Regions from separate parts of the Homo sapiens genome. Here regions 1 and 3 are each linked to region 2. Evidence: fine-mapped expression QTL. A gene starts in region 2. Each other region holds a variant in brackets. All regions are shown on one strand. Distances are from middle to middle.

Evidence for each region. PIP is the estimated chance that this variant, and not a neighbour inherited with it, causes the effect.
Region 1: its variant is the best candidate, but not a certain one, in a credible set for the expression of SH2D4A in whole blood (TOPMed, PIP 0.65).
Region 3: its variant is the best candidate, but not a certain one, in a credible set for the expression of SH2D4A in sun-exposed skin (GTEx, PIP 0.87).

Annotation. Positions count from the first base shown.
Region 1 is chr8:19,512,655-19,518,226 of GRCh38, reverse strand. The region is part of intron 2 of CSGALNACT1 (chondroitin sulfate N-acetylgalactosaminyltransferase 1); the gene reads left to right. Among named protein-coding and RNA genes, the nearest start is that of CSGALNACT1-AS1, 160 kb to the left of the region's middle. The variant A/G (reference allele first, on the strand shown) is at 2,473.
Region 2 is chr8:19,310,476-19,316,047 of GRCh38, reverse strand. It overlaps SH2D4A (SH2 domain containing 4A), which reads right to left and starts at 2,355. Exons shown (of 10, transcript NM_022071.4): 1 at 2,225-2,355. LOC105379306 (a long non-coding RNA gene) reads right to left here. Exons shown (of 4, transcript XR_949550.3): 4 at 4,224-4,315.
Region 3 is chr8:19,392,135-19,397,606 of GRCh38, reverse strand. SH2D4A (SH2 domain containing 4A) reads right to left here. Exons shown (of 10, transcript NM_022071.4): 9 at 4,066-4,289; 10 at 1,389-3,057. The coding sequence ends at 2,965. Among named protein-coding and RNA genes, the nearest start is that of SH2D4A, 81 kb to the right of the region's middle. The variant T/C (reference allele first, on the strand shown) is at 2,632.

The DNA.
Region 1 (5,572 bases), 200 kb before region 2:
TGCTTTTCATTTAAAAGAAAGCCTTACTGAGGACTCCCATACCCTTACTATTTGCCTAAGTGATTGCTTCTTAACTCCTGTATCAGAAAGTACTTGGCTGGGGAGTGTTGCTCATTTTTAAATTAGTCCCCTCTTTGTTAATTAACAGCATGCATTTCTCTAGAAGCTGTGTGATGCTACCTCAGACCCTGATCTCTCCAGGTGCTTACTTTCCTGAGTCTTGGAGTCTCCCCAGTGCCAGGGCTGGTTTCTGCCTGCACAGAAGAATGTTAGTTTGACACATGGCCATTACATGGGCATCTACTTTTGCAGTGCTCTAGAGGAAAGAAGAGAGAACTGAGTGTGATATGGTTTGGCTGTGTCTCCACCCAAATCTCATCTTGAATTGTAGCTCCTATAATTCCCACATGTTGTGGGAGGGACCTGGTGGGAGATAATTGAATCATGGGTGTGGTTTCCCCTATAATGTTCTCCTGATAGTGAATAAGTCTCAGGAGATCTGATGTTTTTGTCAGGGGAAACCCCTTTGGCTTGGCTCTCATTCTCTCTTGAGTGCTGCCTTGTAAGACGAACTGTTCCCCTTCTGCCATGATTGTGAGGCCTCCCCAGCCATGTGGAACTGTGAGTCCATTAAGCCTCTTTTTCTTTATAAATGACCCACTCTCGGGCACGTCTTTATCAGCAGTATGAAAACAGACTAATACACAGTGTTTTGCAGGAGAGCCTTCCACAGTGATCACTTTAACCCTTCTAGAGATATTCTCTTTTTCTTCTTTTCTTTTTTTTGAGATGGAGTTTCACTCTTGTTGACTATGCTGGAGTACAGTGGTGCAATCTCGGCTCACGGCAACCTCTGCCTCCCAGATTCAAGCGATTCTCCTGCCTCAGCCTCCCGAGCAACTGGGATTACAGGCATGTGCCACCACACCCAGCTAATTTTGTATTTTTAGTAGAGATGGTTTTTCTCCATGTTGGTCAGGCTGCTGATCTCGAACTCCCAAACTCAGGTGATCTTCCCACCTCGGCCTCCCAAAGTGCTGGGATTACAGATGTGAGTCACCATGCCTGGCCCTCTTTTTCTTCTTTCAAAGAACATTTCTTAGTTGCTTAAAAATTCTACTTGCCGTGATGCTTTTTAGTTGAGATGCTTCGAACTTGATATGTGAGTATAAACTCCTGGCGTCTTACACCCACATATCAGGTTTGAGGCATCTCAACTAAAAACCAACCACCTCTCCAGGTGGGCAGTGGGTCATGGCCAAAGTAGGGAATGGAGAACAGGAAATAAATGTGGCTGCAGATTCCAGCTGGAAATGGAAACTCCAGGAGCAAAGGCAGCACTTGAACCACTGAGACTGCCGTGGCCGCTGTGTTCACCTCGATCCCCAGAAAGCAGCCACTTCCAGCATCTCACCCCCTCCTGGGGGCTCCCATCATGGAAGCCTAAGGGCCAGGCCCAAGGAGTAATGGGTGACATTCCCCCAGCCCACCCAGAGCCTGGTCTGTGGAGGCCACACGGCTGGAGGGTCTGGTGGAATCACTTAGAAACACTTGAATGTTGCGAAGATATTCTGCCTGGCCCTAGTTGCAGGGACAGAGCAAGGCTCACACCGGGATGGGGATTATTTGTCAGGATAGTGTGAGTTTGCCTAGCTGTTGAGAGATGTGTAAATGCAGATCACGGCTACATGGGGGTACAAAACATTTTAACTAGAGAAGCAGTGATTCATGCCACGTTTGAGGGGCCAGGCAAGCTCATAAATAATATTTATGAGTTCAGAAACAAGAAAAATTGGACACGCTGGGTGTAGAATGAGGAGCAGGTCTCAGCAAGCAGTTTGAGATTATGAAGCGGGTTGAACAGTATAGCGTAGTGGGTAAGAATCAGACGGAGCTGGGTTTGAAGCTGGGCTCTGCTACTTGCCAGCTGAACATCTGGGTCAAGTTACTTCATTGCTTTAAGCTTCAGTTTCTGTTTCTTTAATGGGGTTAATAAGATGTAGCTCATAGGATCGTTTTGAGGATTAAATGAGATAATATTTGTGAAGTGCTTTGTATGATGTCTGGCCCCAACGTAAATGCTCACTAAGTGCTTGTAATTATGAACGAGGGGAGGGTGTTGGAAGGCTGGTTTCATGCGGTTCTCAGTTTGGGGTGAGAACCGGCACCAAGAGCCCCAAAAGACTCCGGGAGTCAGGTCTCCTTGCGGGGTTTGGCAGCTGACTCAGCCCCACATGTGTGCTTGAGATGTCTTACAGCTGGAAGAAGCGTCTTTATTCTGTACACCTGGCTTGAGTAGCATCTTCTTATGCCAGTGTCCTGCCCTCATTGCACCTTCTGGGGTCCATGACCACCACCCATGCCAACTACCTGCCTTAGGTCTTCCTGAAGCAAGGGTGGCAGTTGTAAGGAATGGGACTAGACGGTCTGGCATAGACAGGAAGCCCCTCTCCATCAAGCCTCCTCTCTAAA[A/G]GTTTGCCAGCAAATTAAAAATCAAAATAAAAAAAAAATAGGACTTGAGTCTGTTTCTTGACCTTTTGGTGCTTGTGGTTGTGATCAGTGTGCTTTCATTTTCTGATTAGCAGGTGCCAGCTTCTTTTTGCCACATTTCCCTTTTTCTGCTTCAAGGCAGGGAAATTGAATCAGAATTCTTTTACTTAGTTATTTATTTTTTTGATTTACACTTATGTGTTTATTCTCAGTTGCTTTTCTATTGAGAATTCTTTTAAAAGACCAACGAGGAGTTGAGGGGATGGAGGATCCCTCCCAACTAGGGAATTCCTGACTGTGAAGTCATTTGCAAGCCCATTCCCCTGGGCTGGGTCAGTGCTGGTCCCTGGAGAACACGCCCTCTGAGTCTGCAGATAGGGGGACCTCACAGGGAAGACTCAAGGAGCATCTTGAAGGCTGAGCCTAAGTCTTTTGGGTGAGGAAGGAAGGGAAGTGGGTTGTGGGTGGAGTCCCGGCAGTTTGGTCACATGGCCTGACAGCAGGTGCTGAGGACCTGAGATAGAGATAGTGGGGTCCAGAGGCAGGAAAGGACATGGCCTGACAGCAGGTGCTAGGGACCTGAGATAGAGACAGTGGGGTCCAGAGGCAGGAAAGGCACTCTGAGGCTGGGTTCCCGAAGGAATGGGGGATCAAGGCATGATCCTGGCACTGGGGACCTGGAATCAGTTGTGGCAAGAGCCCTGCCCCAAGGACACTTGTAATGCAGTCAGAAGATCAACTACTGGAAACCTGGAGCTAGGTATCTGTGGGCTCCAGGATGGTCCATCAGGGTGAGACAATATTATTTAAAAATATTTTACGCTTTATTATTTTAGATATATTGTAAATACATAATACTACATTATAAAGCTTGTATTTAATATTTTATTTTTATTTTCTTTTGGAGACGGAGTTTCACTCTGTCCCCCAGGCTGGAGTACAGTGGAGTGATCTCAGCTCACTGCAACCTCCACCTCCCAGGTTCAAGTGATTTTCCTTCCTCAGCCTCCCAAGCAGCTGGGACTACAGGCATGAGCCACCATGCCAGGCTAATTCTCTTCTGTATTTTTTTTTTTTTGGTAGAGACGGGGTTTCACCATGTTGGCCAGTCTGGTCTCAAACTCCTAACCTCAAGGGATCTGCCCACCTCAGCCTCCCTAAGCACTAGGATTACAGGCGAGAGCCACTGTGCCTGGCCTGTATATAATTTTTAAATAGATACATGTATATATATATATATATATATATATATATATATATAGTCTCTGTTCAAAAGTCATATGATGCCTGAAATGTGCTATTTTTGTTTAATTAATGTTTGGAGACAGCTGGTCTTGAGTATTGAGGAAAGAGGAGGAAAAGCAGCAAAACTGCTAGGGCCACCAAGGCAGCTGTCCACACAGATTGCTGTCTGTGTGAAACCCGAGCCAGTACCTGTGCTAAGTAGCTCGGTGTCAGGGCTGGAGGGGGTCAGGGAAGAAGGCTTCAGATCCTTCCACAGCCAACTCCAAACTCTTGGCATTTAATTGTTGACTCCCCAGTGGGACCCCTGTCCTCTCGCTGGGATTTGGCTCAAGCACCTCTTAGTGCATACACAGTAATACTGATCTGCTTTAGTTGCTGTCAGGAACGTAGCAGAAGATAAAGCACTTGGCCCATAGATAGATGCTAATGAAAGTCTCAATGGAAAAAAGAAACCTGCATTCCAGAAAGATCTCTGACACCTGAAAACCCTGCTCTGAAACTTCTGGGTGGATGTGGTTTGGGGAGATGATGAGCTATTATGCTCATTTTCAGGTCATTTTGGCTTCTTTGAAAGTATAGTTATGTGATGTGTAACATTTTGTCAGTGGACCGAATACATGTGGGTGGTTCTATAATTATAATACTATATTTTTACTGTACCCTTTCTTTGTCTAGATGTGTTTAGATACACAAATACCATAGTGTTACAGTTGACTGCAGTATTTATTATAGCCACATGTGGTACAGGTTTGTTAGCCTAGAAGCAATAGGCTATACCATATGGCCCAGGTGTGCGGTAGGTCTACCATCTAGCTTTGTGAAAATACACTCCATGATCTTCACACAACAACAAAATTGCCTGATGATGCATCTCTCAGAACATTTTTCTTTCATTAAGCAATGGCATAACTGTGCCTCAGCCCTAAACTAATTAAGTGTGTATAAGAGATAGATTATTGTGGATTCTAGCAGTTGTAGGTGTTGGTTGTATATACTCATTTTCTTTAACAGCAGGCAGATGGCACAAAATATATATATATATATATATATATATAGAGAGAGAGAGAGAGAGAGAGTGAGAGAGAGAAAATTCTATGAACAGAATGTACTGGGTGTAGGAATTGGGAGCGTTAGGGTCTTTCAATCATTATAGTGGCTTTCGTGTGTCTTCCGTTACATTTTGCGGTATTTTCCTTTGATCTTAAGACCTTTGCTGTCCTCTTTTCTCCCACATTGTCGCTATCCTCCTATGTCCTGGGTGCTACCACCCACCTCTAATATTCAGTGTCTAGTGCATGGTCTTGGTAGGAGATGATGGAGCCTTGAGTAGGGTGGTGGTGGAGGTAGAGATGCAAGAACTGATTTGAGATACTTTTGGAACAGGAAGCATGTTGACATGGTGATGAGTCAATGGCAGAAGATGATGGAGAAGGAAGGGCTAGGGATGGTTTTCCTGCCTCTGGCTTAAGCAGCTTGGTGGGTTGTGCTGCCGTTGGCTGCAAAGACAATGACTGGAAGGGAAGCAGAGCTGCTGTGCTTCATCACTTCTCAGTTAACTTGGCCCGTGTGCTGTAATAGTCAGCTACTTCTACACAACACACCATTGTTGACTCTGGTTTCTGGAAACAGTGTTCCTCTGTTTTAACTTTACAGATTTCCTAAAGTCCCTGACACTTAAAGAAAACATTTTTGGATTAATGACCATTGTTCAAGAATAAAATCTCGGAGGGCTTTGGTAGAAAGCATATTGGGCTTCAAGTCAAAGATGGGTTTGAGTCCGATTTCTATATCTTGCAGGTTGTGTGGTTTTAGACAAGTCGCATAACTTCTCTGAGCC
Region 2 (5,572 bases):
GTACACCCAAGACACCCAGAGGCACTCCAGCCTCAACTCCCAGCTCCGCCTCTAGTGAGCGGTGTGACTCTGTGCTGTCACCTCACCTCCTTGGGACTCAGTTTCCTCATCTGTGAAACGAGGACTGGTTCAGTCTGTGACTTCTAATGTGTGGGTATCTGACATAATCTACTGTGAAGCGAAGGAGCCTGGTGGAGCCAGGGTAGAAGAAATAGAAATCAGGAAATTAACTAACTAGGGCTTTCCTACTTTCACTCCCTGACAAGGAAGTAATCATTGCTGATACTGATTCAAACTCAGAGGACTTTCCCATACTATATCAAGGGCAGCAAATCTCCGGTTATTCAAGATCCAACAAAGGAATAGCTCAGCTAACACAGCCCCTTTCTTAAAAGAGAGAAATGATAAGCAACAAGCCCACACCTGCTATTTATTCTGAACACCAATTGCTAAAAGGTCAGAGAATCCGTTGTTTTCCATGATACCATAGATTTGGCCTGATTCTCACACCTTCACACTGTTCTACAATACAACTGTCTTTTGAATAACTCTGAGACCTAAACAAAATACAATTTTAAAAGGCCTTAGATACAGGCTAAATCATAAAAATAGTAGGCGGGCACAGTGGTTCTACATGTAATCCCAACACTTTGGGAGGTGGACATGGGTGGATTGCTGGAGCTCAGGAGTTCAAGACCTGCTTGGGCAACATGGCAAAACTCCGTCTCTACATAAAGTATAAAAATTAGCCAGGCGTGGTGGCCCGCACCTATAGTCCCACCTACTTGGGAGGTTGAGGTGGGGGGATCTCTTGAGTTGGAGAGTTTGAGGCTACAGTGAGCCGAGATCGCACCACTGCACCACAGCCTGGGTGACAGAAGGAGACCCTGTCTCAAAAATTAAAAACATTAGGTCGGTGCAAAAGTTATTGTGTTTTACATGGCCAAAAAAAAAGTAACTGCGGTTTTTTTTACGTAAAAACCGCAATTACTTTTGCACCGACCTAATAAAATAAAAAATAAATAAAAGTATTGTGGTATGGACAGTGTAACTATAACATTAACAATACAGTTTGAATTCTAATTCTTTTAAAACAGCCAGCTCTGTGGTCCAACTTTGTTTTCTTATTGAAACTTTATCTTATTCATCTACCAGCAAAAGGGCTGTTTTTGAGGATGAAACAAATTACCAGAGATGACAGCAGTTTGTAAATATATACTATTCTTCAGAAATTTGAGATTACTGTACACACAGATTTAGTATACATAGAGAATTCCACTCATATGCCAAATCTATGCCCCTGTATGCTTTCCACTTATTTATTCACTATTTTAAAATAATCGTACCCAAGTCGTTGTTTCTATTAAACCAGCAATCAAACGAAAGCCTTTGGAGCGATGAGGAGCATCTGTTTGAAAGGGGGAGGTGCCACGCTTGCTGCTTCTCTAAGCTCCCTGGGAAGGGAGAGACAACTCAGAAAACCTACAAACTGTAGCTCCTTCCGGTGCCCGCGTGACCCCCGAGTCCAGGAGCGGGCAGGGGCGCCGCTTGGCTGAGCGCACTGGGCACCCGGTCTGGGTCTGGGCCAGCCCCGCCGCTGCAGCCCGAGGGAGGCGGCGCTGCACTGGCCTCCGCGCGCTCCCAGACCCCACGTGGGGGCGCCCCTGGGTGCCGGTGCGCGGGGAACGTGCTGCGGGGGTGCTGCGCCAGCTGCCACCGTTTCCCGGGACTTCCCTCCTGGAAGATTTCCATGCGCAAGTCGAGGACGTGCTCCTGCTAGGAGTCTAGAAACTCTAGGCCAGCCCGGACCCTCCCGGGGCCTGCACTCCCCGCGGGTGGAAGCACGCGCCGCGTGTCCCTGCCGGATTCCAGAACTTCCCCGAAGGTCCTCAGCCCCGGCAGACCCTCTCCCTCGAAGTTCCCCCGCCACCCCCTGCAAGCCCCCAGGCCCCGGGGACCGCCGCTCACCTAGCCAGCGGCTCCAGACACCGGACACCGGACACCGGACACCGGACACCCGCCGCGGCCGCTCTCGCCGCCCAACCCCGCACCTGAGCCCGCCCCGGGCGCCGCGAAGGGGTGGAGGCGGGGGTGAGGCTTCCGCCCGCCCGCTCTGGCCCCTGCGCCTCCCATGCACCCATGCAACCTCCGAGGAAATTCCCTTCCCCCTACTCCCACCCCACGCACACTCTCCCCAAAGCCTCGCCCCACCCCCAGCACCTACCAGTGCTGGGCGCCCCTGGGCAGGGTGGCTCGATCACCCGCCACATCCACTTGGCCGCCAGAAGCCGTCGGGGAAGGGAGGGAGGGAAAGGCAGAGGCGTCCCAAGCGGCGCAGGCGGGCTGAGCAAATACTCCGGCCCGGACGCAAAACAGCTCTTGTAGCCGTCCCGCCCGCGCCGCCCCGCCGCGCCCACATGCCGGGGTGACTGGCGGGGCGCAATCGCGGCCCCACCCGGGCGCCTGGAGGCTCTCCAGGGCCACTCGTCGGCGAGGCTGCGTGGCCTGCGCATCTCGGGCCGCCTGGCCCGCGCGCTGTCCCCGAGCTGCGGTAGTCCGGGGTAGGCTTGTCCTCTCCTCTCTTAGTTCATGAGACAGGGATCTGCAGTCTGTGATCTCTTGGGGACTGCAGGACTTAGATTAAATCTGCAGATCTGGGCCTTTCCACGTTTCAGAGCTCGGGGTTCCTTGCTAGGTGTAGGGTAGGAGGGTGCGCAGGCCCCACTTGTTCACTCTGCTTGGGTGCTGCAGGCCAAGGCGACTCTGGAGCTTTTTTTTTTTTTCTTTTGTTGACATTAAGTAAATGATCAAACTCTTTGGCACTTGTCGGTACACGTGTGGCTTTGTAGGACAAGATGAAGGAAGGAAAAGGCTGGAAGGAAGGAGACCGCAGTCAACACAGACAGGTGGAGAAAATGAAAGAAAACTGGGGGAAAAGTTAAGATGCTGAAAGGAGTCTTGAGGATTGCAACAAGAACAGGTTGGCTTGGTGCCTGAAGACGTCAGGGAGGAGCTGGCAGTCCACAGTTAGAGGAAATCTTGGAGGAAAATTGAGCAGAAGCACAGTGGAAAGGCATTTCCACTGGAGGGCATTTTCCATCCTAGAGGAGCATGTGGAAGAAAACCGCCTGCTTTGGTGAACCCCAGATTTTGTGTATTGGGAGAGATGTAATAAACAGTAAACACCAGTAGTCCTCTCCACGGACTACCTGACCTCTTTAGGAGCCTGACCTGCTGGATTCAAACACAAAATGGCATTTCCCTGCCTCTCCAAACTGCAGAAGCTGTGCAGAGTTACATCAAGCCTCGGGGCAGGCGGCATTGTCAGGAAATAAGACCCAGCTATTTAGGAACAATTCCAGGAATCCCATCAGGGAGGAATTTCTGGTGTAAGGCTTAGTTCCTACTGCAGTTTAAATGATAGCATATGGGGTGCTTTAGGCTGGAGTGGGATTGGCCCCTGGAAAGCTGCTATGACGAGGTCAGAATGAATCCTAGCCCTGCATGGATGCATCAGTTGAACCATACAGGGTGGTTTATCAGTTAGGAAAAATCCCACAGGACACTGTGACAGCCTACCTTCCTCACACCCAGTCTCTCTCCAGGTCCTGGCAAGTCCTTCCTTATAACAGCTTTATCACTGTGCTACTAACCTCTGTACCTCACTTTCCTCCTCTAGATAAAGAGTGTCTGCCTCGGTAAGTTGTCAAGAGGGTTAAATGAGATGCTACATGCAAAGAGATTAGAAGAGCTCTTGGCATGTGGTGAGTGTTCAAACACATTCACTCAGATCAGTTCATATCACATTAAGGTACTGGAATTCCACATTCCTGCCATCTCACCCTAGGCTGTGGGTTCTGCCCACCATGCCACCTACCTTCCAAGTCATTCCCAGGGATCCTATCCTCCTGGTATTCACATCCTTGCATAGCTCCCTGCCACTTTGTAAAGGTTGGTATGCTTGACCAATAGAACCCGGCAGAAGTGATGATGGTCTGCCACTTCAGAGATTAGGTAAGGAAACACCTTGGTGCTTCTATCTTGAAATAATATTGACAGCCCAAAGGAACGCACGCTGTACACAAATAATGCAAACAACTCAGAACCCAGACTCTCTTCCCTTTTCTCTCATCTGCCCATTTCCATCCTTCTTGTCTCGTGGCTCTTTCCTATATTTGCCATGAACTCTTCTTCTTCTCTTATTTTTATAGTTTCTTCTCCATCCTCTTCACTTGGTCTCCCCTCTCCTCTATCACCTTCTCTTTTTGTTTCCTTTCTGCTGACTCCTGGAATTTCCTCTTTTAATTGGCATGGTCTGGAAGAGAAAAGGTAGATGTTTTTCCCTTAATTTCAAAAGTAGACAATTCGAATTTTTTTTTTTTTTTTTTTTTTTGAGATGGAGTTTCACTCTTTTTGCCCAGGCTTGGAGTGCAGTGATGCAATCTTGGTTCACTGCAACCTCGGCCTCCTGAGTTCAAGTGATTCTCCTGCCTCAGCCTCCCAAGTAGCTAGGATTATAGGCACCTGTCACCACAACTGGCTAACTTTGTATTTTGTTTTTGTTTTTTTTTTTTGTTTGTTTGTTTTTTAGTAGAGACTAAGTTTGACCATGTTGGCCAGGCTGGTCTCAAACTCCTTACCTCAGGTGATCTGCCTACCTTGGCCCCCCAAAGTGCTGGGTTACATGCGTGAGCCACTGCGCCTGGCCAAGAATGTTTTATAATGCTCTAAAAAAAAATCAGGTGGCCTATTACTTGTGGGGCCTTCAGTTACTTTTTCCCTCCCTTTGGGCCAGTACTCTCAGAGGAAAACATTTCCCCCCTCCATGATCTAGGATGTGTTATAGGGACGAATGTGGGGAAGACTGCTGACAGGGGCTGGCCACTGACGAGTCACAGACATGGAACATGGTAGCACCAACATGTGTTCAGGAATGCTCTGCTGCAGCGTTCACTGCCAGAACTTAAAGAGAAAGCTAAACATCTATTTATTGGTTACTAATATTTTTAATTTGTCATTTATTCGTGGTAATGAATACCATGAAACAAATAGCCTACATTTTAATGGATGTGTTCCTTGGCCTTCCTTTTGGACTGTTGCTTAGGAGCCCTGCTGCCCAGGGCTGTCAAGTAAAATGGCATAGCATGGCCCTTGTACAACTGTGGGTGGGCAGGGGACAAGCACAGAGATCACTATGTGTAAGGCGCCCCCTGGAGTTGTGCAACACTGCCAGCCCTATTGTTGCCAGAAAGACAGGATAAGCCACTTTGCACTTTTTCTGAGATAAAGATTAATCCTTATTTCAGTTCTACAGACAATGAAAATTGCCTTCATATGTTTTCTTTATAAAATAGAGTATTTTTCCTGTCATATTTTATGATCAGCATCAGAAACCTCAACCACTTTTTAACTGTTAGAGCAGGTATACACTTGTACCACAGTGAATGTAACGTACAAATGAAAGAAAAATACAAAAACATTTAAACTTTACTAAAAACTGATCAAATCTCAAAATAAATCTTAATCAGTTCATCAATCATTAAAAATATATTTAGGGTCTGCTGTGTTTTCA
Region 3 (5,472 bases), 82 kb before region 2:
CATTCCTAGACCCAGAAACCTTGCGCAGGCAGGTCAAGGAGCTGGGCTTGCAGAGGCAACAGGAGGAGGAGACCAGGGTCAGAGTTTGGACATCTTCACCTCAGACCGTAACTCAGGGTAAATGTAGGCAGGACAGAGACCACAGCACTGCTCGGATGACCATTCAGGCCTCCTGAATTCCATTCGGTTGAATTCAGTTTCTGAAATCTGTAAACCATTCTCCTTCCCTAAGAATTTCAAGTGTCATTCGTGCCATCATATCATCCAACACTGGACAGTGTATTCCTCTATCAATCAGCAACCAACAGGATAAACTAGTCCGGAACCCACATCTGCTCCCCTGTGTAATATTGGGTGAATTCAGTTGGGTGACTTCCTGTTTTCTAAATCTTCCTTTAATAGGATGTTGCTTTGTGTAGTTATATCTGGATATGGCCACAATTATTTCCTACAAGATAACTGTAGGCACAGGGGGGTATTGGATTTTTTTTTCCCCCAGCACGTAGTCTTGCTTTGTAGCCAGACTGGAGTACAGTGGTGTGATCTCGGCTCACTGCAACTTTCGCCTCCCAGGTTCAAGCAATTCTCCTGCTTCAGCCTCCAGAGTAGCTGAGATTACAGGTGCATGCCACCGTCCCCGGCTAATTTTTGTATTTTGAGTAGAGACGGGGTTTCACCATGTTGGCCAGGCTGGTCTTGAACTCCTGAACTCATGATCCACCCACTTTGGCCTCCCAAATTGATGGGATTGCAGGCATGAGCAACTGCACCTGGCCAGTACTGGAATCTTACATCTTCCTAATTATTAGTGGTGACAAGTGGGTACTTTCCATTCATTCCAGTGAGAAGCACTAGAACCTTAAAATTTCAGAATTGGATGAAAATAACAAAGATCACCCAGTTGAATCATATTTTTTTTTGTTCAGAAGCAAAAACTGAGGCTCAGAGACAAACTGTCCTGTCCAAGATTATACAGAAAATGGTAGGAAGAGTTGAGAAGTTTCTCAATAATGCCATGACTGTTGAATCATAGGAACAAAAGCCAAGAGATGGATCCTTACAATAGTTTAACAATATAAACCACATGGAACATTTCAAGAAAGAGTTAAACAATGATCTATGTTTAAAAGCTATCTCTACCTGGCATAGTATCTCACATCTATAATCCTAGCACTTTGGGGGTTTGAGGCAGGAGGATCGCTTGAGGCTGAAGTGAGCTGTGATCGCACTACTGCATGCCAGCCAGGGTGTCAGAACAAGACTCTGTCTCTAAAAATAATAATCACCATCATCTTTCTCATTAGAACACACATGCCAACCATCCCCTTCTCTGGCTACATTTTATAGTCAATGAGTGCTGTACGCAACCAACAAGCTTGTAACAACACTGCTGTATCATTCTGCTTTTATTAGAAGGCAATGTAAAAGAGTATTGACCTACACAGTTAGGCCAGAGGTACTAGCCAATCTCCATCCTCCAAGAAAAATGATCTCCAGTGGCTCAGAGCCACCTCAGTCCCTGTCCAGAGGCCGTTCGCCTGACTGGGACTGGACTGAGGTGGGCGGGGGTTCCAGGAGGGCATAAGATTCCTGACGGGACAAATATGTGTGCCAGGGCTAAACAGAACTGGCTGGAATGTTTTTCTTACCTCCCATTTCTACTTCATTATGAAAATGGTGGACTGGGCAGCAGTGAATGGGTCGATCTTGTGTGTCAGGTTATGTAATTACATAAACGACTGTATTAGCTTTCTGGGGCTATAGTAACAAGTCAGCATGAACTCAGCATGAACTAAGCAGCTTAAAACAACAGACATTTATTCTTCCAGTTCTGGAGTCTGGAATTCTGAAGTCAGGGCCATGCTTCCTTCTAAGGCTTGTGGGGAACCTGTCCCATGCCTCTCTGCTGGCTTCTGCTGGTGGCCGGAGATCCTTGGTGTCCCTTCCCTTCCGGCTGCATCACTCCAACTTGCCTCTTGTCCCCTGGTCTTCTTCCCACTGCATTTGTGTCTATTACCAAAACTCTCTCTTCTCCTAAGGATGCCAGTCATTGGATTTGGGGCCCACCCTAATCCAATGTGACCTCATCTTGACTATATCTGCAAAGACCCTATTTCCAAACAAGGTCCCATTCACGGGGATGGGGGTTAAGACTTCACCATATATTTTGGGGGAACACAATTCAACCACAAGTAGCATCCAAACAGCCTGCTTATTCTGTTCTTGTCTAAGCACTTCTGATAAAAAATAAAAAAATACATGTACAGATGCTTTATCCTTTTGGTGCACTATAGAGTATATCCAGGGGAGGCCAGGCCAGCCCCGGCCCCATTCTCCCGAACAAGAAAACAAACTCAGCGATGTTTGCTCACTTTCCTGCAGGTCCATCTGTATTTTCATGCATGTTAAGCCTCTCATTCAATTTACATTCATGACTTCTGTTTTTCTATGTCTCTCATGTCCTGGTTCCAACATGTACAATAAGTGAGGTGTGTTTTAAGCATCATCTCAGCCAGGAAAGGCTTTTGCTACCATTCCAAAGCCAACATGAAACTTCGAAACTTCATGTCAACAGGCCCCTGAAACCTCCTGAGATGATACAGAGGGAGTGCAGGGGTCATATGATAGATA[T/C]TCGTTTTCAAGTACACCTTAATTTCTAAAAGTTTTCCATTTCTTCATTTGTTTTATTTTATGTACATCATTAAGGTCATACCCTTCATGACAGGTACTTGCTGAAATTGAGACTCTTCTCCCTTTTGAGCAGAGGTCATTTTCTCTTGACATTGAATTCCAGTATTTGTGCAGAAAAGAGGTGTCAATGAGGACTCCATGGATACTTTACTTTCAGTTGATCAGTATTGGCTCTGCTGCAGGGTGATTTTGGCTTCACACATAAATGTTGCAGTGGCATTTGTCCAGGGGAAAGCCCGCTTGGAGGCTGTAGGATGACCCTGATGGAGGCTGTCACTCAAACAGCTCCAGGTAGTCAGGCAGCTGGTCCTGCTGACCACAGGGATAGAGAAGGAGCTCCTTCCCCAGGGAAGTGATGGGTTCCTCCTGTCAATCAGAAGGCACGGGGTCAGATAGTGTAAGTAGTGACCACATGCTCTTCCTACTTCCTCAGAGGACATCACTAGCTGCCTACCCATGATTTACACAAAGCTTTTGTGGTTTATGATCATCTTAAAAGGCATTTTTCTTATCTACATGTGACCAGGTACTCCTTTCCCTTCAGGGCTTGAATTCTAACTTAAGGCCTATGAATTCTCATAGGTCAGGGGTCCCCAACCCCAGGGCCATGGACCAGTACCAGTCTGTGGCCTGTTAGAACTGGGCTGTATAGCAGGAGGTGAGCAGTGGAGTGAAGCTTCATCTGTATTTACATCTGCTCCCTGTCATTCACATTATCGCCTGAGCTCTGCCTCCTGTCAGATCAGTAGCAGCATTAGATTTTCATAGGAACACAAACCTTATTGTGAACTGTGCATGGGAGGGATCTCAGTTGTGCGCTCCTTAGGAAAATCTAATGCCTGATGATCTGTCACAGTCCCCCATCACCTCCAGATGGGACTGTCTAGTTGCAGGAAAACAAGTTCGGGGCTCCCACTGATTCTACACTATGTTGAACTGTATAATTATTTCATTATATATAACAATGTAATAATAAAATGCACAATCAATGTAATGTGCTTAAATCATCCTGAAACCATCCCCCAACACTGAGTCCATGGAGAAATTGTCATCCAGGAAACTGGTGTCACAAAGTTTGGGGATTGCTGTCATATGTGATCCATGTGGGTACAGCTTTTATTTTTTTGTTTTAGCATTTCCCGTATTCTCTGCCCCAGTGGGGTTCCCTGAGTATTTAAGGAAGAACTAGGTTCTAAGATAAATGAAATGTGATTAACAATCCTGATTATCAGGAAGAATTATCAAAGACAAGCCCCCACCCCTGTCCCCTCCCCAGTACTTGTCTCAGTCCTTTTCTTTGTAATTGTCATTCATTGTTAGAGCTGCTACAGGACAGTAACTCAGAAGGCAAATTAAGTTTATGCATTGCTTCACCTTGTGATATTCCACCAAATCCGCCAAGGTGGCATGCTGTAGCTGGTCCACGCCCAGGAAGCTGTAGGCGTCTGCAGAGGCATCGATGAGGAAATGTTTACAGCCGTCCTCCGACAGATAGGACAGGGCATAGCCTTTGATCCTTTCACTGACTCGGATGAGAAAACTGCCGGGCATGCCTGTGCTCAGAAGAAGTTCATTTGCTTTCTTGAGTGTGAGAATTCCTGTGGCAAAGCAAAAAAAGGCAGGTATTTCAGCCAAATCATTCCAGAAAATCCCCTCTGTTAAATCCAGCTGCATGGATATAGAGTCAATGACGCCTAAATAAGACACAATAAGAGCAATTTTAAGTCTGTTTTGGGCTTCTTAGGAATACGGAATATTCTTCTGGTATTTGCTAATTAGACATGAACAGGTTATAGAGGCAAACTGTATAAAAATCATGTATAGAGGTATACATGAGAGCTTAAATGTCAACCTTAAAAGAAGAATATATTTCTGGGCCAGGCGTGGTGGCTCACGCCTGTAATCCCAGCACTTTGAGAGGCCGAGGTGGGTGGATCACGAGGTCAGGAGATCGAGACCATCCTGACTAATACGGTGAAACCCCATGTCTACTAAAAATACAAAAAATTAGCCGGGCGTTTTGGCGAGCACCTGTAGTCCCAGCTACTCAGGAGGCTGAGGCAGGAGAATGGTGTGAACCCAGGAAACGGAGCTTGCAGTGAGCCGAGATCATGCCACTGCACTCCCTCCAGCCTGGGCAACAGAGCAAGACTCCATCTCAAAAAACAAAACAAAAAAAAAAGGAATATATTTCTACTTATACACCCATTTAGAGCAACACACAGGTGTTAGACGGTTTATAAGGGTCTAACAGAACGCCTTGATGGTCATCCTGGGAATGTTAGATCTGGGAGGGGATTTAAAGATACTCTCCCTAGGCTACCTCAGTTTACCAACAAGGACTCAATGGCCTGGGGAGTGATTTGACTTGGTCTAGGACAGTGGTTCTCAACCACTCGGACAAAGGTGTCCGAGAGACATCTTTGGTTGTCATGGATGGAGGATGGGGTTAGAGGTCAGGGATGTTGCTAAACAGCCTATGAGACACAGAACAGCCCCACACTGCAGAGAATTATCCAGCCCCAGATAGCAGTAGTGCTGAAATTGAGACTCCCTGGTGTGGGAGGCTCAGTAATTTAGTGACAGAGCCAAGTCAGACTCAGTTCTACTCAGTTCTATAAAGTACCTTAGCCTGTAGCTATTGCTAAATGACACTACACTGGCATTTAAAGGAATAAAACTATATGTGTGTCTTTATATACACATATGAAGTTATATATAGACATAGCTTAGATGCCTCAGGAATTCACACTCTTACTCCAGACCAGCCTTTTCCCCAGT